Homo sapiens: one gene and its partners. The protein of the gene in region 6 purifies or fractionates together with the protein of the main gene of each other region. This does not show direct contact. Each region holds a gene or a part of one and is shown on either strand. Other genes may lie near its edges. The genes, in order: FMNL2, PPP1R12B, MYH11, SHROOM3, ALPL, SIK2 and CDH13.

What was found.
Region 1: the proteins of SIK2 (region 6) and FMNL2 purify together in Homo sapiens (affinity purification with western blotting; one study listed by BioGRID). This does not show direct contact.
Region 2: the proteins of SIK2 (region 6) and PPP1R12B purify together in Homo sapiens (affinity purification with mass spectrometry, with the first as the bait; one large-scale study listed by BioGRID). This does not show direct contact.
Region 3: the proteins of SIK2 (region 6) and MYH11 purify together in Homo sapiens (affinity purification with mass spectrometry, with the first as the bait; one large-scale study listed by BioGRID). This does not show direct contact.
Region 4: the proteins of SIK2 (region 6) and SHROOM3 purify together in Homo sapiens (affinity purification with mass spectrometry; one large-scale study listed by BioGRID and IntAct). This does not show direct contact.
Region 5: the proteins of SIK2 (region 6) and ALPL purify together in Homo sapiens (affinity purification with mass spectrometry, with the first as the bait; one large-scale study listed by BioGRID). This does not show direct contact.
Region 7: the proteins of SIK2 (region 6) and CDH13 purify together in Homo sapiens (affinity purification with mass spectrometry, with the first as the bait; one large-scale study listed by BioGRID). This does not show direct contact.

The regions. Positions count from the first base shown.
Region 1 is NC_000002.12:152,646,060-152,650,662, forward strand, and holds the end of FMNL2 (formin-like protein 2), read left to right. Parts: intron 1-1,736; coding exon 1,737-1,846; 3' UTR 1,847-3,767; downstream 3,768-4,603. UniProt on the Homo sapiens protein: Plays a role in the regulation of cell morphology and cytoskeletal organization. Required in the cortical actin filament dynamics.
Region 2 is NC_000001.11:202,347,181-202,351,834, reverse strand, and holds the start of PPP1R12B (protein phosphatase 1 regulatory subunit 12B), read right to left. Parts: upstream 3,137-4,654; 5' UTR 2,984-3,136; coding exon 2,693-2,983; intron 1-2,692. UniProt on the Homo sapiens protein: Regulates myosin phosphatase activity. Augments Ca(2+) sensitivity of the contractile apparatus.
Region 3 is NC_000016.10:15,850,217-15,854,166, reverse strand, and holds part of MYH11 (myosin-11), read left to right. Parts: intron 1-3,950. UniProt on the Homo sapiens protein: Muscle contraction.
Region 4 is NC_000004.12:76,756,360-76,760,309, reverse strand, and holds part of SHROOM3 (protein Shroom3), read right to left. Parts: exon of another isoform or gene 3,862-3,950; coding exon 3,373-3,861; exon of another isoform or gene 3,222-3,372; intron 2,262-3,221; exon of another isoform or gene 1,718-2,261; intron 766-1,717; coding exon 615-765; intron 1-614. UniProt on the Homo sapiens protein: Controls cell shape changes in the neuroepithelium during neural tube closure. Induces apical constriction in epithelial cells by promoting the apical accumulation of F-actin and myosin II, and probably by bundling stress fibers.
Region 5 is NC_000001.11:21,511,973-21,515,922, forward strand, and holds part of ALPL (alkaline phosphatase, tissue-nonspecific isozyme isoform 1 preproprotein), read left to right. Parts: intron 1-3,950. UniProt on the Homo sapiens protein: Alkaline phosphatase that metabolizes various phosphate compounds and plays a key role in skeletal mineralization and adaptive thermogenesis.
Region 6 is NC_000011.10:111,608,656-111,612,605, forward strand, and holds part of SIK2 (serine/threonine-protein kinase SIK2), read left to right. Parts: intron 1-3,950. UniProt on the Homo sapiens protein: Serine/threonine-protein kinase that plays a role in many biological processes such as fatty acid oxidation, autophagy, immune response or glucose metabolism.
Region 7 is NC_000016.10:83,791,519-83,795,468, forward strand, and holds part of CDH13 (cadherin-13 isoform 1 preproprotein), read left to right. Parts: intron 1-3,504; coding exon 3,505-3,512; 3' UTR 3,513-3,950.

The DNA of each region.
Region 1 (4,603 bases), on a different chromosome or scaffold from region 6:
CCTGTAATCTGTAATCCCAGCACTCTGGGAGGCCGAGGTGGGCAAATCTGTTGAGTTCAAGATCACCCTGGGCAATGAAGCAAAATCCCCATCTCTACAAAAAAAAAAAAACAAACAAACAAAGTTAGCCAGGCATGGTGGCAAATGCCTGTAGCCCAGCTACCTGGGACGCTGAGATGTGTGGATCCCTTGAGCCCAGGAGGTGGATGCTGCAGTGAGCAGAGATCACCACTACACTCGAGCCTCAGTGACAGAGACTGTCCTCCCCTCACAACCCCCGCCCACCCCCCCAGAAAAGAGTAGGGCAGGGTCACACAAATTCCAATGAGTCAAGGAGCCAGGAAGGTAACAGGCCTGGTAGGAACTGTGCTGAACCTAGAGCACAGATCTTAGCTCCAACTTCTTTTTGCTGTGTAGGAACTGGGGCCCGGTTTTGCCAGATCTTCCAGTTTTTCAAAAGAAGCCAGAAACCCTGGTCTTTATGTTAATTACCAATTTAAACACCAGGAAACTGTACATGTGCGGGGGGTGGGGGGGCACAGTGGAGCAAACATTCTGTGGGTCAAATGTGGTCCATCAGCTGCATTTTCAACTTGTTGAGTAGATAAAGGGATACAAAAGATTCAATTTGGTTTAATTCTGTTATTTGTTTGTATTTCCCTTTCTAAAGATAGCATGTATTCTAGCAGAAGTCAACAATACTAAGTTAATGAAAGGGAAGTAAATACTAATTAAACAGGAAAAGTATAAAGCCTGCTTTACTTTTTTCACTATGCCCTGACTTCATCAAAGGGAGGCTGCATAGCCTAGCCTGCTGGCTAGCTACCTGACTTACTCAAGAAAGCATGCCTTCATACTGAGTTCTTGTATAAAATTCCTCTGCTCCTCCCACTTCATCCTGACAGAGCAATGCCTATTTGGACTGGTATGCAGTGATTGACTCATTCATTTAACAAGGATTTTCTTATGCAGGAGGGCCCACACAACTACTTCTTGCTGACGTAACATAAAAAATATTGGGTGGTAGAGCTCGGTAGTCCCCACTTCTCAGGAGGCTGAGGTGGGAGAATCGCTTGAGACTGGTTCAAGTCTGGCCTGGACAACATAACAAGACCCCATTTCTTAAAAAAAATAGGTGGCAGAAAAGGATGCCAGGGAATAGATTATTATTTTGGTTTAGATTTAATGGTTAATTGAACATCATTTTGTTTAAAATTTACAAAATAATAAACTCAGCTAGCTTAATGGAATGAAAATAATAGAGCCCTTATCTGCAAACTGAAGGTCTTTAGGTTCTTGTTAAAACTGCGAGGAAAAGATGGGACAGGACAGTCTGCTTTATTAATTTTGCAGTTTAAAATTTATTGCAGTTACTATTTATTCATTCAGGCTTCCAGAATAAAAACAAAACAAAAAAATTAAGCTACAGCTGCTTCTAATTTAAGAAACATTTCAAAATAAGACTTCAGCTAGACTCTGGCCAGTGACAGAAATAATCTATGTATTTTTCTCTCAAAGTCCTAGAATCCTACCAGTATTACATCCTGTTTTGTTTGATTGTAAATATTGAAGGCAAATGTTTTATGTCTTTGATTCAATGCTCAGTGAGTTTGAAGGGCCCATTAGCTGACTTTTCTACACAAGCTGCTTTGATTGGCTGCCAGCTGGCCTTTGTCCTGCTTAGACACATGCTATTAAAGGTTGCTATTCTCTCACTGGCACTCTCCCCTTTACAGATCTTAGAAACCAACCATACAGACGAGCCGATGCGGTGAGGAGAAGCGTCAGGCGGCGCTTTGATGATCAGAACTTGCGTTCTGTTAATGGTGCCGAAATAACAATGTGAACCTGAGACTGGCCTGCATGAATACAGGGTGTGCGTGAATGAAACTGCCCACATGAACTTTATGTGCTACGATTTAACTGCAGCCTTGAACACACACAAAAATATTCTTAAGGGCTCAGATTTAGCAAACACGGAAGAATTTTAAAATGAGCTCTCCTTTCAACCCTTGTTAACAAGTGCCTAAAAATGGAAGTACCTGTTCAGATTAATCAAAGCAATAGGATTTGATTTGATTAGGTATCTTTTTACACCAGTATGTTATTTTTAACCAAAATGTAAAGTTCTTATTAAACTCATTACCTGCCATTGTGATTGTCCCATCATGGCCCACCTGGTTTCCTGATGTTGTAAATAACATCAATGCATCTGCTGTGGGTCCTTTGCTGAGATGTCTTCGAAGGAATTTTGTTTTAGCCATATCCATCAACTTTGTATTTTACTTGCAATTTGGAAGAAGGAAAGTCACATGATGAAACTCCTTTTGTCTATAACCAGGCCCTGGCAAAGTGCAAACAGGATGCAACTGCAGTGGCACAAAGGTCACTCAATCCTTTGTTTCCAGTTTCACATTCTACTACTTCTGCGCTAGAGAACGATGCTCTGTGAGAGGCATTCACTAGTATGAATGTGGGGATATAGTGTATAAGACTTATTTGCAGTACTGTGTTCTTCAGCTAGAGGCAGCTTTTTAAATAATGCAAGTGTATTTATTAGCATTAAAATTAACATCTCAGTAATCAGCATTAGCATTTCTGAGGACCATTATTAATTCTGAGAACAGAAATTGGTGCCTTGCAAGGAAGTTTACTAGCTCTATCAACAAGCATTCAAGGTTACATCTGCTAGCAGAGTAGTGTTAGGAACCTGGCCTTACTCTCCTCTGACAATCGCAATTTTTTCTTATTTTTTATAAATTCAAGAAGATACACTTGGCATCGTGTATCGAGGCTAAGTTTTTCATGCATTTCCCAGACTACTTATGGAGAATTGCAGTTTAAGTTGCTGAAAAGTATTAACATGGTATTAAGCTTAAATAATACGTAATGGGACTAGATGGCCCACTAAGCCACTGTTATTTTCCTTCCTCTCTGGCAGGGCACTTGATCCATTCCAAAGTCAAAAACTGGACTGAAGCTAAATTTGTACTTTTCATAATATACATTCTGCTTCTGGCTTATCTTCTTGGTACATCAATATATTAATTGTAAAGTTTATTGTATAGTATTTAACCGCTGAAGTTCCTATTTTATGTTGTGCTTATGTGAACCCCTTGGTGAAGGTCCCTTTTCCTTGGATGTGTAGTTATATGATCTTTTTAAATGTACAGATATTTTGCTATAAAATCGGTGCAGTTTTTTATGGTTTTTACACTTCTCTTTAATTCCCACCTAAGCCTCTGGGTAATATTGTAAATATTGTTTTAAAATGCATCAGCCTATGCTATACAATCTGAATGTTATTTTAACTTATAGTTTTTTTTAATATATATATTTAACTATAAGGACAGTTTAGGGAACAAGTTACCTACCACATTTCACTTTAGTGTACCTATTTACAGAAAGATTAAACTGCCACCTGCGGGCACATTCCCATAAATGTGTACTTTACTTTAAAAAGAACATGCCACGATTTTGTCTTTCTGTGGACTCAACATTCACTTCGATTAAAAATAGCAATTTGACCAAGTTGGACTTCCACTACAAAGCAGCTGTTTTCCAAAGTTCAATGCTGACATATATGTATATTAAAATAATTGCCTATTTATTAATCTACAAATAGACAACGTTGGCATGTTCTTTTCTGTTTGTCTATTAATGGGCCTGCTTCTTAGCAATATTAGAATGTTTTATAAAAGCAATTCATGTTACTTTTCTGGTCTTTTCATGGCATATGAGCAAATAATAAACTATTTACACTACTATTCTGTAATATGTTGTAATCTTTCAATGGTACAATTTAGGGGGTTTTAGCAATATTATGTAGACTTACCTTCTAGAAACAAATATATCTTGCTATTTGAACTCAGAATCCAAATATACTTGGTAAACGTCAGGAAGGATTCCTCCCTATGTGAACTCTTGACCGCTTGCTATATAAAACATAGACAATGGATCTTGGAAGTGAGACTACATCTCCAAAATTGCATTTATAAACATACACCTTCTAGGTAAACAGCACCTTTGTTTGGTGAAATGCCACAACGCCCCCAGCAGCCCCACCAAATGTTACAATTAGGATGTTGTACAAATAAAGATAATAGGCTATATATTAACTGCATAGTTAACCCTGCACCCAATAACCATACCAGTTGGCAAGGCAAACAAGCAGTTTGGCCCCCATTGCACAAACAGTTGTAATAAAACTCCCAGTCATCAAAAGTTTATGTGTAACATTTCATATGTTCTTTTTATGGAAACAAGAAAAATTTTAAATTTTAGAATACCTTTCAAGTGGCTTAAATTTAGAGGCATATATATTATAGTCATTTAAGGAATTATAATTTATATAATTATTGTCACAACTACCACAGCGTACTTTGCATTTGTCACACACAACTGCTTACAGATTAAAGGCAATAATCTTTATTCCTCACAAGAAGCCTGTGAGGTATTTAACACTGTTGTGCACATTGGGAAACTGACTCAGCAAACTGACTTGCCCAGGGTGCAATCTAATAAATGCCTATAATAAAGCCTTAGGTCTTTTGTTCGCAATTCAGTGCACTTTCCACTAAACCAGTTATACAATGTGTTAGAA
Region 2 (4,654 bases), on a different chromosome or scaffold from region 6:
AGGAGGAGAAAAATTGTCCCCCAGTATTATCTGGGGGCTTCTAACATGCCAAGACAATAATCCACAGTTGGTCAAGTGGCCATGGCCAAAAGAGAGAAAAGAAGCAATTATCCAGATAATTTATATCGTGCTTGTATAACAAATGGACATTTTAAATAAATAATTCAGATAATTGTACCACTCACTCTCCATTTCACAGAAGGTGAATCCATTGTAAAGTAGGTGGTTCAGCTACCAACAGCTCCAGTCTCCCATTTGAAAATAGTCTTTTATGTACCTTAGGAGTTCTCCAGGTCGGCCATGCGCGGTGGCTCATGCCTGTAATCCCAGCACTTTGGGAGGCCGAGGCAGGCAGATCATTTGAGGCCAAGAGTTTGAGACCAGCCTGGCCAACATGGCGAAACCCCATCCCTACTAAAAATACAAAAATTAGCTGGGCATGGTGGTGGGCACCTATAGTTCCAGCTACTTGGGAGGCTGATGCATGAGAATAGCTTGAACTTGGGAGACGGAGGTTGCATGCAGTGAGCTGAGACTGCACCACTGTACTCCAGCCTGGGAGATACAGTGAGACACTGTTTTTTTTTTTTTTAAACAACAACAACAACAACAACAACAACAAAAACTTCTCCAAGTCATGGAGACACACATTGTAACTCTTCGGAAACTGACTTGTAATGTTCTGAAGCCAATAAAGGCCCGTTGTCTTGATTCAAAGATACAGTTTCTCAACAGACCTCAAATCTTTAAGCAGCTTAATTTTTAGCTGAATTTGTCTAGAATCGAGTATACTTGTTCAGTTCAACTCCTTGTCAGCCCTATAAATGGAAAGGAATGCTTATATTGCATTTATAGATGTTAAAAAAAAATCCATAGCTGTCATCCCCTTCTTCTCTTATTTCAATAGATTACTAGGCCAGGCACAGCGGCTCATGCCTATAATCCCAGCAGTTTGGGAGGCCAAGGAGGGTGGATCTCCTGAGGTCAGGAGTTTGAGACCAGCCTGGTCATCATGGTGAAAGCCCATCTCTACTAAAAATACAAATATTATCTAGGCGTGGTGGCAGGCGCCTGTAATCCCAGCTACTCGGGAGGCTGAGGCAGGAGAATCGCTTGAAACCAAGAGGCAGAGGTTGCAGTGAGCCAAGATCTCGCCATTGCACTCCAGCCTGGGCAACAGAGCGAGACTCTGAATCAAAAAAAAAAAAAGAAAAAGAAAAAGAAAAACAAGAATTCACCTTCCCAAAGAGTTCAGAAATTTAAAGTTTAGAATTTAATGTGGTTCTCTTAGCTTTTATCTCATTTTACATTCAGCTCCTTATTAAGTGAGATAGAGATCTCTGTGACATAAGTCTGAAAAATCCATGCCTATGGGCCACTTCTTTACTTTCTAACTTTGCACAAATAATTTTCCTGAGCTTCAGTTTCCTCATCTGTAAAATGAGAATAACAACACTACCTGCCACACCTACTTCAAAGGATCACTGCTGAAACTCACATGGGGTAAGACATATGAAATCAAACAGCAAAGCACTCTACAAATATTGGTTACTACCTCAGGTGGGGAAATATTATCAGCAGGAAAAAAAAATGGGTACAAAATAGGGTGAAAGAGTTTCTTCTACCTGAAATAGAAGGGTTGCAAACATAGTGAGAAGTAACTTTTTAAGCTATTGGCTAAATATATTTAGGGAAGTGGTCTGATATAAAGTTGAGTTATTATTTAGAAGTAGATTCTCATGCCAATACATTCACTTTGCACAGACGGCAGAAGAAGAAAAATACAAAAGATTAAGAGTGGGTGTCCGGCTCTCAGCTCACCAAAATAACTGATGAAGTTCCATTTGAGGAGAGAGGGGTAGTTAGTCATGGCAGTCAGTAGACAGAGAATATTGCTGCATTAGGTGACAGAAGTAAAGGTGTCGTTACCAAGCACAGATTATCCACAATCCATATAGTATAGCTATACATGGGGCATGGGATTTCTATAGAGCACTTTAGAAAAAAAAATAGAAAAATAGAAAAGCTATTCCATAAGTATCAAACAGAGGTAATTCAGTAACTTAGTTCTCCATAGGAAGCTCTCAGGGAGGTAGCACTGCTGAGAAGGAAGTTAAGATACCTAAAACAACGAGGTCCAGCGTGTTCTAGGAGCTGTAGCCTAGAGGCAACACAAACTGTTTTGAAGTACTACAAATCAACAAAACAAGAGGTGTGGTTTCAGACCTGCTTGTCTTTACCCAGTAAAGGGCTTTACTCTTTAAGTGATATAAGATATTCTATAACGGGGACACACAACAACTGAATTTTCTGAAAGGGCATCAAACAAATGACACTGTGCCTATGAGTGACGCGGTGTGCAGGCACGCCAACCAGACATAAGTGAAGATAACTAATCTACAGGGATAAGACCAGGGACAAAAATCACCAGTAACCATGACAACACAAGTAGGTGGAGGGAAATACAAACACTGACCAAGCAGCGGGGTGACGCTATTCCTAAGACCCTGGGGTCAGAAAAAGACTTGATTAGTGGAGGAAGCTGGCCAAGAATGAAACCGATTAGCCCAAAAGGGCAGTGTCCATGCAGAAGGAGTCGGCGGCAACACTGATACTCCCCATGGGGTGGCTCGCAGGGTCAAAGGCTCATCTGTAGGAGACTGGACGCCTCTAAGACCAAGAAAGGAGTTACCTGGTGCAGGGCTGTCAAGCCGTCCACGTTGACCGTGTTGATATCAGCACCTCTTGCCAGAAGCTTTCTCACCTCGTCGGTGTCCCCGCTAGAGCAGGCGGCCAGAAAGACAGCACCGTCCTCGAAGCGGACCCTGGGGCTCCCGCGCCTGGTCAGCGGCTGCCGCCCCGCGCCTCGTCGCTCCGCAGGCTCCTGCTCTGTCAGCGAGCCCCGCCAGCGCCGAAGCTGCTCTGCCCGCCGCATTCGCGCCGACTCTGCCCGCTTCCCTCCTAGGTGCTCCAGTTCCGCCATTGCTCCGGCCTCGGCAGCTGCTGCCAAAACTACCAACACTAAATTACTGTTGGGGCTCGAGTTGCCGCTGCCGCCTCTCTCAGAGCGCTTCAGCCCGGAGCAGAGGGCGGAGACCCTCGCGCCGCCATCTTTACTCCTCCCGCCAGTAGTACCGCCCGCACGCTCCCTCGGCTTCAATACGCAGGCGCTGCCCGGCCTCGGGTCATCACGGGACTCGTAGTAAGAGGCCTGCCCTAAGTGCACTTGGTGGCCGTAAGGGAACTACAAATCCCTGGATGCATCAGAAAAAAGGCGAGGACCGGCGGCTCTCTCTTTCGCCACGGGACCCAGTGGGGTCACCTTTGCCCTAAAGCTGGAACTGTCTCCTGGACTGGCGTCAGCCTCTTCCTCTGGGCATTTTGGGAGTTGTAGTTTATTCTTGTTATGACTAGTAACTAATCTTATCTCCCTAATTATCACATCAATTCTTTGGAGTGGAAAAAAGGCGGTAATTATTCCTGTTTTCTGGAGGAGAGAACTAAACATTAAGTACCTAAACGACTGGATTCTATATCCTAGTTCTAAGTCTAGGGTTTTATTAACATGTGTATTAATCACGGTAAATGTGAATGAGCGTGGGGAAGAGGAGCATACATACAGATACAGTATTACATGTTTTACATAAATACTGTCAACTTACTCCAGGCCCAGAAAAGATCTTGAAAATGATGCATTCAGATGTAGTGAAAAGAGTTTAAGCTGTGAATTTAAATTGAATTCACAGCCGCAGACAAATTACTTGACTTCTCTTAGCCAGTTTTCTTATGTGTAAAATGGGAATAACATCTCACAGGGTAGTCATGTGGATCAAATGAAATAATACATGCAAGGATGCCTAATACTATCTTTGGCACATATTGGATCCCAATAAATAATTTCTCTTCCTTCTCCCTCCTCCTCCTCCTCTACTCTTTTCATATACCTTAAATTTTTACAAGACAGAATAGATGTCTTCCATGATTTTTATTTCTTTTCTTTTGAGACAGAGTCTCACTCTGTCACCCAGGCTGAGTGCAATGGCGCAATCACGGCTCACTGCAGACTCAACCTCCTGGGCTCAAGCGATCCTCCCACCTCAGTCTCCCCAGTAGCTAGGACTACAGGTGCCCACCACCACACCCACTATTTTTTTATTTTTTTGTAGAGACAAGGTCTCACCATGTTGCCCAGGCTGGTCTGGAACTCTTAGACACAAGCGATCCTCCTGCCTCAGCCTCCCAAAGTGTTGGTATTACAGCCCTGAGCCACTGTACCTGTCCCATGATTTTTTTTTTCAAAGCTAGAGAAAGATACTATCAAGCATACTAAATCATACTAAATTCCTAAGGTAGCAAATAGAACATTTTTATATTCACCAAGACTGGGTTATAAAACATGTATCTGTCCGATTGTTTTGTTTTGTTTTGTTTTGTTTGAGACAGGGTCTCGCTCTGTCACCCAGGCTGGAGGGCAGTGGCATGGTCGTGGATCACTGTAGCCTCAACCTCCCAGGCTGAAGCGATCCTCCCACCTCAGCCCCCCAAGTAGCTGGGACTACAGGCCTGTGTCACTATGCCTGGCTAACTTTTGTATTTTTTGTAGAGACAGGGTTTTGCCATGTTGCTCAGGCTAGTCTTGAGCTCCTGGGCTCAA
Region 3 (3,950 bases), on a different chromosome or scaffold from region 6:
TCTCATAAACCTCGTTTCTATTTGGGCTGAAAGTGGTGATTAGAATCTTTAATATATTAAGCTACCATTCCTTACCTGGATTGGGAATGTTACAAATTCCAATTACATTTGTTTAGGGTTTTGTTTGTTTGTTTTTGAGACAGAGTCTTGCTCTGTCGCCCAGGCTGGAGTGCAGTGGTGCGATCTTGGCTCACTGCAACCTCCGCCTCCTAGGTTCAGGCACTTCTCCAGCCTCAGCCTCCTGAGTAGAGAGTAGCTGGGTTTATAGGCGCCCACCACCATGCCTGGCTAATTTTTTGTATTTTTAGTAGAGATGGGGTTTCACCATATTGGCCAGGCTGGTCTCGAACCGCTGACCTCAAGTGATTCGCCTGGCTTGGTCTCCCAAAGTGCTCAGATTACAGGCGTGAGCCACCGCGCCTGGCTTATTTAGGGTCTTGATGGCATACTTTAAGGGATGGCCTTTTTGCTCTCTAGGTCTTCTCCTTCCACTCCTGACCTTTCAACTTTTAACCCTGGCCACACAATGGAGGAAAGACTGAATTTAGAGAAAGGCAGGCAAGAATTTGAAAGAAACCTTGTATGTGATCCAAGGACAGAGGAAGAAGCTGCTCACAGTGGCTGAAAGGGGAGGTCGGACATCTGTGACTTGTATCAGGGTTTCAGGGGCTAAGGAGGAACAACCTCATCAAAGTTGCTAGGAAAGGGCCATAGAGGCCAGGTATGGCAGGTCATACCTGTAATCCCAGCAATTTGGGAGGCTGAGGTGGGGGGATGGCTTGAAGTCAGGAGTTTGAGACCAGAGTGGGCAACATAGCGAGGCACCATCTCTACAAAAAAATTTTTAAAATGAGCTGGGCATGGTGGCATGCATCTGTAGTCCTAGTTATTCAGGAGGTTGAGTGAGGCAGGAGGATTGCTTGAGCCCAGGAGTTCAAGGCTGCCGTGGGCCCTGATTGCATCACTGTTCTCTAGCCTGGGCAACAGAGTGAGACTCTGTCTCAAAAAAAAGGTGAGGGGCATAGAACTTTACTGTACCAGGCTGAAAAATACAAGGCCCAGAGAGGGCAAGTGACTTGCCTAGCATCACCCAGCGAGTTTTGGGCAGAGCTGAGACTTGTAACTCGAAGACCTAAGGATCTTCCACAGGCTAATGAATAGCTTGTTTGTGCTCAAGGGATGAAGCAGTGAGTTGTTAGGACAGGACTGTGAATAGGGCTGACATATTCAGATGTGTCAAACATCGCTAATGCCATCTCTGAGTAAATTAGGCTTCAAACAGATCGGGATTCTAATCCTGGTTCCCCAACTTTTGCAAGGGAGGGCCTTGCATTTACCTTTCAAGACCCCGATAGGCTTAGCAGGAAAATGGGAATAATAGATAATGCCACTCTTTCATCCTTGGACTTTTTGTCTAATTATATGAATTTATCTGTAGGATAAATTCCCAGAAATGCGCTTGCTGAGTTAAAGGGCATGCGTATCTAAAATTAATAGATATTGCAAATGACTGGCTAAAGACATTGCAGACCAGGTGCAGTGGCTCACGCCTGTAATCCCAGCACTTTGGGAGGCCGCAGCAGGTGGGTCACCTGAGGTCAGGAGTTCAAGACCAGCCTGGCCAACATGGTCTCTGCTAAACCCTATCTCTACTAAAAATACAAAAATTATCTGGGCATGGTCGTGGGCACCTGTAATCCCAGCTACTCGGGAGGCTGAGGCACGAGAATCGCTTGAGCCTCAGAGGCAGAGGTTGCATTGAGCCGAGATCACACCACTGCACTCCAGCCTGGGCAAAGAGTGAGACTCGGTCTCAAAAAAAAAAAAAAAAAGGCATTGCAAATTGCAACTTGTTGCAGTCACATATGACAGCAGTCCCCATCCTCTTGGCACCAGAGACTGGTTTCGTGGAAGACAATATTTTCCAGGGTGGAGTGGGGAGGATGGTTTTGGGATGAAACTGTCCCACCTCATCATCAGGCATTGGTTAGATTCTCATAAGGAACGTACAACCTAGATCCCTTGCAGGTGGAGTTGGCAATAGGGTTTGTGCTTCTGTGAAAATCTAATGCTGCTTATCTGACAGGAGGCGGAGCTTAGGCAGTGATGGTCACTCACCCACCGTCCCCTCCTGCTATGTGGCCTGGTTCCTAACAGGCCATTGACTGATACTGCAGCACAAGGGTTGGGGACCCCTGACATAGGAGACTATACATTTATTTTAAGCTGTGGTATGCCAGAATTGTAAAATATAAAACACAGTGGGGCTTTTAGGGCCAGAAATAATCAGTTCTTGCTCGCTTCCAGAAGCATCCTTCACAGGGGCTACCGTAACTCTTGCCAACCAAGTTCTCTTGGTTGGGAGGAAAAAATAGTGTTATGCATTAAGAGAACTTCTTTCTGGAGTTACTTGAAACCATTGGTATTCAGATGATTAGGCAGATGTCACAAGGCAATAAGAATGTGACAGGTTCACCATTCACTTTTTTTCCTGTAAAAGTGAAGTAGGGCTTTCTTGGGAACAAGCCCTTGGGAGGTGGGGGGATGTGAATGGTGAGGGGAGGGTAGAAATGGTGGAGTAGGGTCAGGGGCAAGAAAGGGACTTTCTGCTAAGAATTAATCGGGTGTCCATTTACTCTTAGCAGAAAACTAGGATTAGATTCTGGATTGTACTCCTGACTCCAAATTTTACAAGTGGGGGTCTTGCATTTACCTTCCAGGACCTCGGTCATCTTAGCAGGAAAATAGCAATAGCAGGTGATGCCACCTTACAGAGCGCTTAGGAGACAGTGAGATGGTCTATATAGGAAGCTGTCTGGCCTGATACCTGATGAATACAAGGGGCCCAATAAATACAGTGGCTGTTATGAATAATAGATCTAAACTGCCTTTTTGGTACTACTGGGGACCTGCCAAGCAGGTGCATTTAGAGTGCCCAGTGCCTCTCCCTGCGACACATTTGATGCCTCCCTACACCTGGACCAGGCCTTGAGCGAGGATTTCCACTGCAGAGGTCCTTCCAGCTGGCGAATTGTGTTGCAGATCAGGTTCAGAGAACTTCTGTTTTGCCTGTGTGGCATTCATTCATTCGTTTATTTGAAATAGAGATGGGATCTCACTGTGCTGCCCAGGCTAGTCTAGAGCTCCTAATTCAAGCAATCCTCTTGGCTTGGCCTCCCATAGTTCTTGGATTACAGGTGTGAACCACTGTATCCAGCCCTTTATGACATTTAGAATATGAGCAATTTTTCTTTTTTCTTTTTTTTCTTTTTGAGATGGAGTCTCACTCTGTCACCCAGGCTAGAGTGCAGTGGCATGATCTTGGCTCACTGCAACCTCTACCTCCCAGGCTCAAGCGATCTTCCCACCTCAGCCTCCCGAGTAGCTGGGACTACCGGCATGTGCTGCCATGCCTGGCTAATTTTTGTATTTTCTGTAGAGATGGGGTTTCACCATGTTGCGCAGGCTGGTGTCAAACTCCTAAGCTCAAGCGAACTGCCTGCCTTGGCCTCCCAGTGTTGGGATTACAGACGTGAGCCACAGTGCTGAACCCTGCATGGTATTTAGAATATAAGCAATACTCTAACATCTGGTCTGGGTCACTCTGTATTACTTACCTGATCTCCAAAAACATTTGGGTTTTTGTCTCTGGTCCAAAATCTTTAGCCAATGGCTTGGCAGTAAAATCCTGAGGGAAGCTGTTGACCAGGTGAGGTGATGTGCAAATCCTATACTCTCTGGGCTCTGGGATATTTAATTTACTATTTATTTATTTATTTTCAAGACAGAGTTTTGCTCTTGTCGCCCAGGCTGGAGTGCAGTGATGGGATCTCAGCTCACTGCACCCTCCACCTCCTGGGTTCAAGCGATTCTCCTTCCTCAGCCTCCTGAGTAGCTGGTATTACAGGCGCCCACCACCACACCTGGCTATTTTTTGTATTTTTAGTAGA
Region 4 (3,950 bases), on a different chromosome or scaffold from region 6:
AGCATCACGGTCATTTTTTAAGTGTCTTAACATTTGAAATCTCTGTAGGAGTATCAAATGCTAACAACTAGATTCCAGCACTGCACTTTCAAGCTATTCGCTGAAGTCCCTCAAAAAGGGCTGGGGAAGATATAAAGGTTAATATTACTTTTTCTCAGAAGTGTCATTTAACAATTGGCCTCCTTCCCTAAAAAAAGTTTCTAGATTTTAAAATTTTCCTTTTGACTATGAAACAAGAAAATTACACACACCGTTGGCACTGGCCAACCAGCAGCTGAGAACAGTGTCGGGGTCCTGGTGCTGGATTAGGAGGCTAGGGACTTGGGTTCAAGTCCTGGCTATGAGACTTCTAATAATCCCTCTAAGCTTCACTTCTGTTATTTGTAAAAACGAAAAGTACAGTAGCTTACCTGCCCTGCCTACTCACAGAAAAGCTAAGAGGAAATTAGTTAAAGTGCCATGTAAATCCAAAGTCTAATGATTTTGGTGCAATCTGGTGATGTGACAGGTCCTTTCCCCACCTGCCTCAAGAGGCCCAGTCACCACGCTGATTACATGGACCTTGTCAATTTTTCTGAGGAAAGCTGAACAAGGGCATCCCATTCTTTATTTACCTTCTTTTCATTGACATCTGCCTGTTCCTCTTCCTCATTCACTTCTGCTGGCATCTCTTTGATTTTGTTCAGTAGCTCAGCCTTGGGAGCAGACACACTGTAGTAGGCAGGGCAGTTAACCAACATGCTCACTGCTTCCTTGTCTTCATTCCTGGGCCAAAAAGAGCACAAAGTATAGCCACACAGATCACGCCAGAGGCTTTGTTTCACTGCAGATGTCAGTCCATTCAGAAGTGCGTAACAATTCTATTTAATTTCTTTCCCAGAAATTAGGATAAACTAGTAACTGTTAACTAATGAGTGATTACTATGTACAGGGCTGTTGAAGCCAGGCAAACTTGGGATGGAAAACCACCAAAAGCAGCATTAGGGATGACAGTGGGAGTCAAGGCTATGGCCTCGCCAGCTGACTCTGGAGAAGACATTTAACCTCTCTGCTTTTGTGATTCATATAAGAACGACACTGACTCCTTATTTCAGAGAAAGGCAGTGTGGAACCATGACTCAATCAATGTGAAAGTATTTTCAAGGTGCTGCACAAACCTCAGGTTTTAGGTCAATTATTTCCTATACTCCTTTGGTTACATGTAATCTTTCTAGTGCCTACTATGCACTGTTGCTTGAACACACAAAATTTTTCCTTCTCAAGTGTGCCTGCTATCCCATATAATCCTGGGAAATCTGCAGTTTGCTGGTCCGCAGTGAACTAATACAAGATATAAAATCTACTCATTGATAATATAATAGGGATGTTTTAAGGCTGAAGAAAAAACTCAGAATTGAGAAACCTGCTATCTAGTAGTTCTCTGTTTTACCACATTTGAGTTGCCTTTCAGCCTATAATTCATATCCTACCCACTGAATAAATGACTCTATGGAAGTACGATTCTCTTGGAGAGGAACTTTATTTAATCTTGTGATATTATTTAACATCTAGCCCATCATTTTACTATGAAATTAGGAACCACACACACAAAAAATCATCTTTACTAGTTTCCTGCTTGATAACTGTCCCAGTAAGCAACAATGACCACATTTAATCCAGTTAATTGAAAGACAGGGAAAAGATTTTCTGATACATTTTTGTTTGTTTTTGTTTTCAGATATGTCCACCGCATTACAAATGGGATTCTCTGGCATCTGACCAACCCTCACAATGGCTACTGGCCATCTCATGCCCAACAGGACAATGCTTATTTCCACCAGGAGATGGCGCATGCCTTTTTTTTTTTTTTTTTAAATCCCCAGGAAGGTCTCAGTGCTGCAAAAGCTCCATGACCATTCTGCTTCTAAACTGACGGAGCAAACATATATTTCCAGTGGTAATGCTAGGAAATACTTTGCTAAGGATGTTACTTTGGTCCTTCAGCCAGTGGTCAGAGAACAGAATGACCATACTGCAACCACCCATGGTGAACTGACTGGCACACCTACAAAAATCTTATCTTTGGGGTCCCCATAGTACCCAGTGGATTGCCTTGCACATTGTAGGTGCTCAGTATGTGTTTGCTAAAGACATGACCCTGGATAAATCACTTCACCTCAATTAGTCTGTTTCCCAAATCTGAAAATAAAAGCAGTGAAATGGACAAGGTGACAGTTAAGGCCTTGAATCAGAAGAGCCTCTGACAATGTGACAAATAGCTTGTAAGTATCACATAGCTCTTTCCTTTCTCTCTCCCCCATAAAATGAAACGTGGTGTTCCTGTTAGTAATTTAGTTAGGATCAGTTGGAAATTTTTAAAATGCAATCCCAAATTTGGATAAAATGTTCTGTTTTTATTTAGTCTGGAAGCCACTAACTGCTGAGTCCCAGACTGTCAATCCACAAAGATTTCACTGAAAATTTAAGAGAAAATGAAAGCTACTCAGTCTTTCTCATAGTAGTCTTTTAAGGAAATAAAACATGCAAGAAAATACTGCAGTAACCCAGGAGAAATGAAAAGCACAGACTGCACACTGGGACACGTGTTACATGGCTGGCTCAAGGAGCTTCAGAAGCAGAGGCTCACGGACTGGGCCAAACCAGACAGTGCGCTCCTACTCAGACCTTTCCTGATTTTCAGGATTTGCGCCAACACCCACCTTAATGCCTCAGAGGTAAGGGTCAGTGTAGTACACGAATCTATTTCTCTAGGCTCTCCTCCTTACAAAGCCCTTCCCCTCTCAGTCTTGGCAAGACGTTGGCCACGCTCACCACTTCCACTTGCTCCTTTCCCAGCACCGAGCTCTGAGGGCCTCTCTGCCAGAGCAGCTCTGATACAGAACCGGCAAGTACACCTTTGCTGAGCTGGGGGCACTGTGTAATTGCTGGAGACAGGCACAGTCATGGGGCTGTGATCAAATCCAGGTGCCATCACTCACATGTTCAATGACCTTGGTGAGCATGGTCTTAATTCCTCTGTACTTCAGTTTCCTCATTTGTAAATGGAGGTAAAATTGGTAGCCACCTCAGAAAGTTCTTGTGAAAATTAAATAATGTTGATATAAATAAATTAATACAATGTTTGACACACAACGTTAACAATGGGTACTAATGGCAATTATTATAATTATTACTATTACTTTCTTTGTTGTTGCATATCTGTCCCACATCCTCACTGCCAGAGCCATTCCTCCAAGACTGAGATAAAATGTCACTCTTGGTTCAGGAGCTGTGGCAGTAGGAGAACATCAGGCAACTAGTCCTAGACTTATCATCATCCCCATGGAAGGAGTGTGATTGTAAGTCTCTCTGAGGACATCACCAGGGACTTACCTCTTGCCTTCACATCCTGAAGAGCTGACAGTTCTCTGTATGGCCTTCCTCTTTACACTGTTTTCCTTCAGCAAGTTCACATCTCGGGGAAACAAACCTTCCATCAGGTCCATTGTTGTCTTCAGCCTGGAGTCTGGATCCAAAATGTCTGCTAGAGATTTGTCTTGGTGGACAATTTCCTTGGCCAAAGCCTCTGTTCTGATGTCTTCTGAACTCTTCTGAGGATCAGGACTGACTTTCTTTTCTAAACCCTGAGTTCCACTGACTGGATCATGGCTGAGGCTTTGAGTCTGGATGGGTGCTGGCTGCCCACCAAGAGACCCAGCAAGTTGGGCGTGAACGCTCATGAAGGAGGGTGGTGTGGACTCAGCCTCTGAACCCTTGATAGAAGTTTGGAGTCTGGAAGCCAGTGTCTGACTACCTACCACATGGGCTGCACCAGGCATGTGCCTTTCCCTTGCAATTGTCACTTTAGAAAGTTTGTTGAAGCTGCCAGGGATATTTAAAAAAAAAAAAAAAAGAGAGAGAGAGAAAGAGAGAGTGATAAGAGAAGGGTGATGATAAGAGGGTGGAGAAAG
Region 5 (3,950 bases), on a different chromosome or scaffold from region 6:
CTTTTAATCCAGGGAGTAGGATCCAGTAGCAGAGCCCGAGTTCTCACCTTGAAATCAGTCTGACTTGGCTTTTTAATACAAAACCCAGAGCTCTGAGAGAACATTGCTGGGAGAGTGAGCAAGCTGGGCTGAGAACCAGCACTCAGAAATCTCCATGTGGCCACAGGAATGCTGACTTGGCTTCCCAGCACCATGTCGTCGTCCTTGGCAGGCTGGAGCTGGGCTTTGTGGTATGTTAGATTTGTTTTTTTTCTTCTGGAGATGTCCTCACTTTCAGAGGGCAGTTAGGGGCAGTAGACTGAAGGTTCATTCCCAGCACTGCCATGCGACCCTGGACAAGTCACCTTCCCTTTCGAAGCCTCAGTTTTCTCATCTGCAATATGGGTTAAAATTATATACTTTGCAGGGTCGCAAGATCATAAATGGTTTTCCAACTTTGGGCTGAACCAGCATTGATGTTATTAAGACATTCATATTTCCTGTGGAGCAATTTCAAAAGCAGTTAACTTTATCCCTACCAGGTGATCCTGAGGGCCTGAGGGAAGTCCACGTTTAGGTCACAAAAGCCTACACAGCAGGGAAAACACTGGTTTGGGGGCTGGTGTCTTGGATTCCAATCGCCAGCTGTGTGACCTGAGGCAAGTCACTTTACCTCTCTGAGTGTCAAGCTCATAGGAGGCCCCCAACATCAAGATATGATGCTCAGTGTCTGAAGAACATAGTCTCCGTATTTTTCTGCCTCCTTGTACCAGCTCCCAACCCCCCCGCCAACACTTCGTTAATTGCTCCCAGAAAAACTCTATGCTTAAAGTTTTCCATGCTTAAATTCTCAGCCTCACTGTGGCATGAAATCAATTGTTTGCATTGAATTTGACTTCTCAAATTAAGGGGTAAAATTTGAGATGAGAGTAGGGGGTTAGGGAGGAGATGAGGACGAAGTTAAACCAGATGTGCTTTTGTTTAATTGTAGGATGGTGGTTAAGCTGCTCAAGTATTACCATCGTTCTTTCTGAATTCCAGTAACCAGGAGTCAGGTTTCACAAAAAGTCGTAGTGTTCTTTCCTGGCTGGTGTGGACTCGCCCTCTCTATTATTATTATTATTATTATTATTACTATTTTGTATTCATCTGAGGCCACAGAGTACTGGCCAGAGAGGAGACATAGATCCCCAGAATTTCAGTTGGAAGGCCTTTAGAAGCTGGCTCGGTCAACTGGGCTCTTGGTGCACCAGGGAGACTGAGGCCCAGAGAGGAGAAGAGGCTTGCCCAGGGTCACACAATTGCTTAGGGCAGAGTGGACTGGGAATTCAGTCTCCTGGCCTTAAGCTACATGATCTTTCCAAAGGCAACCACTCTCCTGAATTTGGTGTGTTTCATTTCTACAGTATATTCTTAGCATATCTGTTTTTTGAAAATCATTGTTTAAGGGAGGATGCAGATGATGTGGGTTGGTGGAAAAAGATATTAAGCTCAGGAGAGCTGAGCTGAAGTCCTTGAATACCTCTGTGACCTTGGGCAAGTCACTTCCCCTGTCTGAGTCTCAGATTCTTCATCTGTAAACCAATATATCTGAGGAGTAGGAGTGGAGAGATGAGACTTCCCTAAGACTTGGAATGGGTCTAATGTATTCAACTGGTCCTCAGATATTTATAGCCTGCTGTGTGCTGGGTTATGGGAGATCCATCACAAACTGCCTTCCTAAGGCTGCAGGGGGTGGGGGATTGTTGACTTTTGCGGTGATTAAACAACTTTTATTTAGTTGCTGGTGTTTTTAAACCAGGCAATTTCATTTTATATAAAGATAAGGATTTCTGGCTTCTCTTGAAAGATCAGAAGATGTGGCCATATGGGGCTATGTCCCTGCCTGGCCACAGTGGCTGGAGCTGATTAGCAGCTGCTCCATCCACTTTACCACAGTCTCCACCACGCCCCACTGCCTCACACTTGCCCACCTGCCTCCCTGACATTACCTACCTACCTTCTGAGCTTGCGGTTTCTGGGCTAGATGCAGTGAGGCCATGTAAGAGGGGCTCAAATTCCACTTGAATGATTGTGTGGGGCTTGGGCCAGCCCTCAGGGGGCTCAGGGTGAGAATATGGGACACGTGGACACTAGCCCCTCTTCCATAGCCTGGCAACATCTACAAAACATGTCAGCTAGGCGAAGGAGCTTTTTTCCTGCTTCGGTGGTCCTCAGGAAGAGTCTGAGGGCTCTGGAGGTTTGGGGGTGATAGAGCATCTACCTGTCAAGGCTCAGCGAGTTGAGCCCAGGGTCTAGCTGGGGACAGGCATCGCTGGGTACTTCATTCTAAAGATTGCACAGCCCCTGCAGGGAAGAGACTCCCTTGACAGCTTCCACCTTACCCCTTGCTCCCCAAGAGCCCTGTGCATTGGTGCGCCACTTCACCCTGTGCTCCCTAACAGCCCTGTGCATCAGTGCATAACCACTTCTCAGACAGGAAACACGATCTTGCACTCTGAACCCACAGCTCTCTGTTCCACCCCCTTTGCTGGGAGCCAGGGCCTGGTGATGACAGGCAGGTACCATGGTGGCTGCAGCAAGCATCTTAGAATCGCCATGTCTGAGCCAGAGGGTAGCACAGGAGGCTGTGAAGCCTGATGGTTACATGCGGGGGGCTCTGGAGGCAGCTGCTGTGATGTGAGATTCTAGGTCTCCACGAATCAACTGCTCCAGGGGTTATGAGATGGACAAGGGAGACTGATTGATTGTCGATTGCTGATACTAACCTCACATCCCCTGGTCCTTACACCTGCAGACGACTTCAGAAATGTGCCCTGTGTGGGAAGTGGCATTTTGTGAGCACCATTGGGTACCAGGCACTTTCGCACATTACCTTTGATACTCACCTACCCCCTACTCTCCAGCATTTTGCAGTTAAGGAGACTGAGGCTCAGAGGGCAGACACCTTAGGATTACTCCTCCCCTAGGTCTCTATGCCTCTCTGCTTTGACCCAGGGAAGGGAGGAGAGGACAGGCTGGAAGGTCATTTCTGGAAATAAGGCCGTGGAGACCCTGTAGTGAGGCCCTGACCCTCCAGACTTTCTAAGCCACCCCCTCCTCCTCCACTCCAGCTTGTTTCAGAGATGCTTCTTCATCCTTCCAGAGCTCAGTTTGTCATTCAGGTGCATGAACTTTACCTGGCCAGGTCTGCAAACTGCTGGGCAGAGCTCAGCAAATATTTTATGTTCTTTAAAAAAGTTTTTAGGTGGCTGAAGCAAATTGCTTTTACTGGAAAAACCAGAAGTGTGACCTTTATTTTATTTTTGCAGAGATGGGGCCCTGCTATGTTGCTCAGCCTGGGTTCAAGAAGTCTACCCACCTTGGCCCCTGAAAGTGCTGAGATTATAGGCATGAACCATTGTGCCTGGCCCACAAGTGCACCCTTTAAAAAGATCTACCAGGTGACCCTTTTTTAGACTGAGTATCGCTCTGTTCCCCAGGCTGGAGTGCAGTGGCGTGATCTCGGCTCACTACAACCTCCGCCTCCCGGGTTCCAGAGATTCTCCTGCCTCAGCCTCCCATGTAGCTGGGATTACAGGCACATGCCACCACACCCAGCTAATTTTTGTATTTTTAGTAGAGACATGGTTTTGCCATGTCGGCCAGGTTGATCTTGAACTCCTGACCTCAGGTGATCCACCCTCCTCGGCCTCGCAAAGTGCTGGGATTACAGGCATGGGCCACCACACCTGGCCCCAGTGACTTTTTGTTGGGTCAACCTCTTGCCTTCTTTAGTGCACCTTTACTAGGTCAGTAAAGCCACAGGGTGGGTACCACTTAGCTCTCAGGCTGACGTTCTCAGGCCTCTTGCTGGCTGTCACTGAAGTGTCTCAGGCTTGTTGTTTTTTTGTTTGTTTGTCTGTTTTGTTTGTTTGTTTTGTTGTTGTTGTTTTTTGAGACAGGGTCTAGTGGCTCTGTTGCCCAGGCTG
Region 6 (3,950 bases):
ATTTGACTATCCATATTTTATTTAATCAATTTCCTATTACTGAACATTTAGTCTATTTCCATCTTCCTGTCTCTCTTTCTAAAATAATGTTTCAGAGGGCATCCCTCTACATACATCTTTGTGCATGTATCTAATTATTTCCTCAGTGTAATTGCCTAGCAATGGAATTCTTGGGTCAAGGAGTATGTACATTACCTATCTTACGGTGTAGGATGCCAAATTACCCTCCAGAAAAGGAGTACCCGTTAATTTTCACCAGGAAGAACTCATATTTTGCAGGAATATTATTTTCTAAATCTCTGCCAACTTGATAGCAGAAAATAATATTCTTCATTACTTTTAAATTTTTTTCTATTTTTATTTTTAATTAACAAATACATGTTTACATTTTGTTACTTCAATTTGCATTTCTTTAATTACTTTGTACAGTTTTATATGATGATGATTTGCATTCCTTTTATAAATTTTTTTGTCCTTTGACCCATTTAATTGCATTGTCTTTTTTGTTGATTTGTTTAAATACTTTTTAAGATAGGGGATTATTTTTAATCACTTCTTTAATCATCTTAAAAATTCTCAGTTTAATTTTTGTGAGTATATAACTATCGGACCATTTACCTTTTCCCCCAATCTGTTTTTCCTACCCACTATTATAAAAGTCAAATCAATTTTTTTTTTGGGGGGGGGACAGGGTCTCACTCTGTCACCCAGGCTGGAGTACAGTTGCGAGATTACACCTCACTGCAGCCTCCACCTCCCAGGCTCAAGTGATCTTCCCACTTCAGCCTTCCAAGTAGCTGGAACTACAGGTGCACACCACCATGCCTGGCTAATTTTTAAATTTTTTGTAAAGACAAGGTTTTGCCATGTTGCCCAAGCTGTTCTTGAACTCCTTGGCTCAAACAGCCCTCCCACCTTGGCCTCCCAAAGTGCTGGGATTACAGGCATAAGCCACCATACCCAGCCTTCAAATTAAATCCTAATGAGAATTTATTATTTGAATAATTTTAAAAGCCAAATTTACATTGGAAAAAAGTCTCCTTTTTATTTATTCTGAGAGGGTAACTAGAGAATTCTCTATTTTACTACTGACTTTTACTGCTTTCAGAAAGTCTTTCATTATAGACCACTCAATCACACTTGCTTTTCAATCAAATGATAGGCTAGTAGGTTGTAATTCCACCAATGATTTGTTGTATAAGCTGAAAGTTGTATTTATTTTTTAATTTCAAAGGTCTAATGTATGGTATGATAGAGCTAATGTTACTTGGTACTTCAGAAGGACAGTGTAGAATTAGTATATTAGTAATAGGACTGGAGTAAATATTATCTAAGACAAGAAACACATGTTAATCCCTTGTAATTTGTTATTAGAAGAATAGCTCTTATTTGTAACTTCTTTATAAAATCTCCAAAAGCTACTTTTTTTGGCTTTAATCTGTGGATTTATAGAACCCAAAAGCAACTTTTGTATATGTGGTTTCTTTAAATGAGATTAGTATTTCTTTTATGAGAAGTTAATTTGTTTTTCTAAAATCAAAGAGACAGGATAGGCCAGGCATGGTAGCTCACGCCTGTAATCCCAGCACTTTGGGGGGCCGAGGCGGGTGGATTGCTTGAGGTGACGAGTTTGAGACCAGCCTGGCCAACATGGTGAAACCCCATCTCTACTAAAAATACAGAAATTAGCCTGGCGTGGTGGTGCATGCCTGTAATCCCAGCTACTTGGGAGGCTGAGGCAGGAGAATCACTTTGAACCCTGGAGGCAGAGGTTGCACTGAGCTGAGATCGCACCACTGCACTCCAGCAGTGACAGAGCAAGACTCTGTCTAAAAAAAAAAAAAAAAAGATAACAAACAGTTTGAAAAATGAAAAAATTCCATTTATTCATCAGTTTAACACTTTTTACATTTCTGCTCTTACATTTAATTCTTTGTCCTCCTGTATAAAATTTGTATTTTACATAGTTGTTACTTTCATAGTGTTTTTTAAAATTTCACATTGTTAGAAACATTTCTGTATATATGGTCTTCTTAATATTTAAATCATAAAATAATATAGCCATTTTCTAAAGAATTTTGAAAATGAGAAAATGAAAACTAATATATCTCAGAGAATTAGTATATGATAAATAACTGTCATTGTTCTGGGTTTTTTCTTATTAGAAAAATAATACATGTTCACTGAAGAAAAATTGCACAGAAAAGTACAAAGCAGTTTTTTGTCATCTTTTTCTACTCATACCTTATGCTGAGACTGCACTGATATCTCAGTTTTCTAATACTCTATTGATTATATGTACACATAAGGCTGGGTGAGGTGGCTCACACCAGTAATCCCATACTTTTTGGAGGCCAAGGCAAGAGGATTACTTGAGCCTAGGAGTTTGAGACCAGCCTGGGCAACATGGTGAAACCCACTCTCGACCAAATGTGTGTGTGTGTGTGTGTGTGTGTGTGTGTGCACACCTGTAGTCCCAGCTTCTTGGGAGGCTGAGGTGGGAGGATCATTTGAGCCTGGGAGGCAGAGGTTGCAGTGAGCTGAGATCGCGCCAGTGCACTCCAGCCCAGGCAACAGAGTGAGACCCTGTCTCAAAAAAAAAAAAAACTACACATAAATCTTTGTCCTCATTTCAGATTATTTCCTTCAAATAACTTCTCAGAAGAGTCCTTAAGCTACATGGAATGGATGATTTTTAAGGTTCATAATAAAGACTACTAAATTGCTTCCCAGAAAAATTATAATCTATTTTATATTCCTACTAACTATCTGAAACAAACATCTCACTGAACTTTAGCTGACCAGGTTATTTATTTTTTAATCTTTATAAATATAATAAGTGAAAATGGTATTTTGTTTTTAATTCATATTTCCCTGAGTATTTTGAAGTTGAATATTCAATGTTGCTACTTTATGTGGGATTTAGTTTGATAGTAATCATTCTAGTTTGTCCTAATGTTCTTCAGTTTATACAGGAAACCTTTATTCAGTCCTTTAGTAGAAGGAGTATTCATTTTTCTGTCATATAAATTTATTGAAAGTTTTTTTAAGATAATGTATATATAATGATTAGAGAGTTGAATAGATGAACACCACCAAAAAAGGGGATCTTTCCATTCGTGGAGTTCCTTTCTTGACCTACTTTCTTGTTACCATGCAGATTTTGTCTCTTATACTATGTTGAGAACTAAATAAGAGAAGGGATATAGAGAGGAAGTTCCCAGAAATCTAAGTTCATTCTAATCCTTAAAAGGAACTATTGGAACACAACCCTTTTGCAAATTAAGGACTTTCAGTGCACCTTTGGGGAAATCCCCAAATACTTTTTTTTTTGTTGGTAAAATGTGTTCATCTTCTTCTTACATACCTATTAAATTGTTGAGGGTAGGAATCAAATCTCATTCATTTTTATATCCCAGGCATAATTCCTGGCACACAACAGATGCTGTGTAATGTATTACTACAAGACCCTTTGAAATAGTGAAAAGATTAAAGTTGGAGTTAGAAGGCCTAGGGTTTTTCTTCCTTAATTCATTAGAGCTTTAAGACCTTTGTTGATTATGTGACATTATTTGAACCTCAGTTTCAACTCATGAGTGTACTGCTTGTTTCATTTACTTCACAGAATTGGGAAATAAATGAGATAAAATATGCTGAAGTATCTTTAAAAATGCTGTGCAGTTGTGAAAGTCATCACCATTGTTAGTATTATACATATTTCTGGGAAGTACTTGATAGAGAGCTCCATTGTTAAGAAATTACTTGGATGAGTTTGGCAGACTGCTAGCTGATCATTGAAAACTCTGCTGTTTCCTCTTCTTTCTGGGCCTACAGCTGGACTGTTTCTATGCCACCCTTGCATTTAGGTGTGGTCATATGCGGAGTTCTAACTAATGGAATGAACAGAAGTAATAGGCACCACTTCCAGCCCTGGCCCATAAAATCACCCA
Region 7 (3,950 bases), on a different chromosome or scaffold from region 6:
ATATGCATGCCTGGCTGGGTGGGGTGGCTCATACCTGTAATCCCAGCACTTTGGGAGGCCGAGGTGGGCGGATCACAAGGTCAGGAGTTCAAGATCAGCCTGACCAACGTGGTGAAACCCCATCTCTACTAAAAATACAAAAATTAGCTGGGTGTGGTGGCACACGCCTATAATCCCAGCTACTCAGGAGGCTGAGGCAGGAGAATCGCTTGAACCCAGGAGTTGGAGGTTGCAGTGAGCCAAGACTGCGCCATTGCACTCCAGCCTGGGCAACAGAGCAAGACTTTGTCTCCAAAAAAAAAAAAAAAAAAAAGCCAAGATGAGCAAAAGATAGCCAGTAAACACTTTTAAAATTTTATTTTTCAACGTATTGTTTGCATAAAACAAAATGCATCCGTTGCAAGTGTACAGTTTGATGCATTTTGGTAAGTGTACAGAATTTTATACCACGCCCTAGTCAAAATACAGTTTCCTTTGCTATTGATCCCCTTTCCGCAATCCAGGCTCTCATTGATCTGCTTTCTCTAATAATGGCTTTGTCTTTTCTAGAATGTCTTAAAGTGTACCAGTATTTTGTTCCTTTCTATTGCGAAACGTATTATGGACAGACACGGCCTGCAAAGGCATTAAACCCAGGTAGAGTGGGCTGTCTTCGGCCTGCAGACGGCCGCGGTCATGCTTTGCAGAGGAGCTGTGGCCCCTTAAAGTGACATGACATTATGGACAATGACAGTTGATCCTTGGGGGCTTTCCATGCACCTTGCGCATGCAAGCTAAGGGCTTTACATAAATTAAATAAATTTCCTCAAGTAACCATCTCAATAGCCCTGGGACGAGTCACTTATGTTATCATCTAAATTGACTTAAAACAGGAATTTGAGACTCTAATTTGAAAACAAGAGATTGGAGCCTATTTAGTGGATTTTATGCAGCCAAAGATGTTTCTTGTTGTTGTTGTTGTTCTTGCTTTTAACTAATTTGCCTCCCAGGAGACAGTTGAAATGTCTAGAGACATTTTGATTATTATGCCTGGCAGGACGCCACTAGTGGCATCTAGTGGATGGAGGGTAAGGGTGCTGCTAAGCGTCCTCCCATACACAGGACAGCACCCCCCACAAAGAATTATCCAACCCCAAATGTCAGTAGTGCTGAGGCTGAGAAACCCCACTCTGCTCTCTAACCAAAATTAGACACAGAAAGTGGAGACATTCTACCACCCTGACAACATCAATGGCTTTTGCCCATTTAAAACAAGAAAGAGGAATATGTATCCAACCCAAAACAACATCTTAACATTCTTTCTAATAGGCTTTTGCAAAAATAGTTCATATTTTATAACTGTCTTGCAGCATGGGGTATAAGTGTAATCATTGTAAAAATGAAACCTAATCATTGTAAAAATGAAACCTAATCATGGTAAAAATGAAAAGAGTGCCTCAAAACATCTGAAGTTCTTAGCAGAGGGCAGCCTGTCTTCAGTGGGCACTTTTGGATGGAGGCAGGACTAGGGTATCAGTAGGAGTGAGAACAAAGGTCAGAAAAATGAGTACACAGCACATGTATACTGATTAATTTCTTTCTTTTTTCCTTCTTTTGATGGAGCAAGACTGTAACAGAAGCCTGAGAGTGAGGAAGGGCTTTGCCAACTATTACTGTAGACACAGTAGTTTACTCAATTTTATGAACTCTTAGTCCTGGGCTGGAATTCACGCCTCTGCTGGAATTGCACAGACAAAACGTGCTTGCGAGGAGTAAGGTGGCAACAAAAGAAAAATGCAGGCAAAAACACGCCTCATTTTGAAACCGGATCTGAGCATCCTAGAGCCAGAGCCTCTCCCAGCCAACATTGCTGAGTTGAGCAGAGTGACAGACTCCACACTGGAGCCAGCCCCGCAGCTGGCCATAAGGAGGAGCCACGAGCAGGTGCTGGGAAGACAGGCTCTTGAACGCACACTATGCTGATGTCTCTTTCTGTGAAGTTTTCTACATGAGTGACGTTCTCAAAGTCTGCAACACAGTCTGCCATGAGATGCCTTTTTTCCTCTGGGAACACAATGCTACTTTCGTGATTGGCTGAGTAATGGCCCCCAAAGATGTACTCTTCATCCTAATCCCTGGAACCTGTAAACATGTTACCTTATATGGCAAAAGAGACTTCGGGCAGGCACCTGTCATCCCAGATACTCAGGAGGCTGAGGCAAAAGAATCGCTCAAACCTGGGAGGCGGAGGTTGCAGGGAGCCAAGATTGTGCCAATGCACTCCAGCCTGAGCAACAAAGTGAGACTCTGTCTCTAAAAAAAAAAAAAAAAAATTTCTCAGATGTGACTCAGTGAAGGATTTTGAGATGGGGAGAGTATCTTGGATTAGCCAGGTGAGCCTGATATAATCACAGAGTCCTTATAAGAGGGACAAAGGAAGAGTCGATTAGAAACAGACCATGTGATGACAGAAACAGAGGGAGGTCAGAGGTGAAAAAGAGAAGATGCTGCAGTGCTGCCTCTGAAGATGAAGGAAGGGGCCATGAGCCAAGGGATGCAGGCAACCCTTAGAGGCCAGGAAAGGCAAGGGAACGGATGCTTTCCTAGAGCCTCCAGAAGGAGCACAGCCTGGTCAACACTGATTTGAGCCCCATAAGACTGAGCTCAGTCTTCTGACTTCCAGAACTGTAAGAGAATAGATTCGTGTTGTTTGCACTTTATGGCCATTTGTTACAGGAGCAACAGGAAATTAACATACCATGTTTGGGCCAGGTGCAGTGGCTCACAGGTGAGCCTATAACCCCCAGCACTTTGGGAGGCCAAGATGGGAGGATCGCTTGAGGCCAGGAGTTCAAGAACAGCCTGGACAACATGGCGAAACTCCATCTCTATAAAAAATGCAAAAATTAGCCAGGCATGGCGGTGCATGCCTGTAGTCCCAGCTCCTCCGGAGACTAAGGTGGGAGGATCGCTTGAGCCCAGGAGGCAGGGGTTGCAGTGAGCCAAGATTGTACCACTACACTCCAGCTGGGGCAACAGAATGAGACCCTGTCTCAAAATAAAAACATATCATGTTTGAAGAACCACCAATAGGTATCTTGCTCTGTGACTTGTGATCCTTAAGTCAACATATATATATATATATAGTCACAGGAAGTCGATACATATATGGGATAATCACCAATCTCTAAGATACATAGCATGCTCATAAAATAGCCAAGCTCTGTGCTGAGAGACAAAGACATAAGGCTCATTGGTAACGGTGGTAATAGCAGCTCTCGGTCTGAGCGATGTTTGGCATCTGAAGTCACCATTAGCATTTTCAGAGAAGTCCAGCTTTTTACCATATAACCATTCATTCTGTCTTCCAATGTGATCCTTAAGGAAAAAAAAAATTCCCCCATAGTCGTGTGATGTTTAAAATGTGTTTATTATACCTTGCCTGTCATTTTTCTGGCTTTTAGCTAAAATGTTTTGAATTGAGTGGTGATATTCCCGACTTAACTCTGAACCCTCTCTATTCAGGTCTGTGAGAACTCCTGACGTCTGAAGCTTGACTCCCAAGTTTCCATAGCAACAGGAAAAAAAAAAATCTATCCAAATCTGAAGATTGCGGTTTACAGCTATCGAACTTCACAACTAGGCCTCAATTGTTCCGGTTTTTTATTTTCTTTACAATTTCACTTAGTCTGTACTTCATCATTTTGACAGCATCTTCCTCCCTCCTTTAATTAATGGAATCTTCTGAATTTTCCCTGAATGTTTAAAGATCATGACATATGACTTGATCTTCTGGGAGCAGGAACAATGACTACTTTTTCTGGTGTGTTAACATGTCGCTAGCCAGTGCTCCAGGCACCCAGCTTTGTCTGTGGGTTAGTATTGGTGTATGTATGAGTATCTGTATGTATATATACACGGTATTTATAGAGAGAGACTATCCTGGAGAAGCCTCGTTTTGATGCCATTCT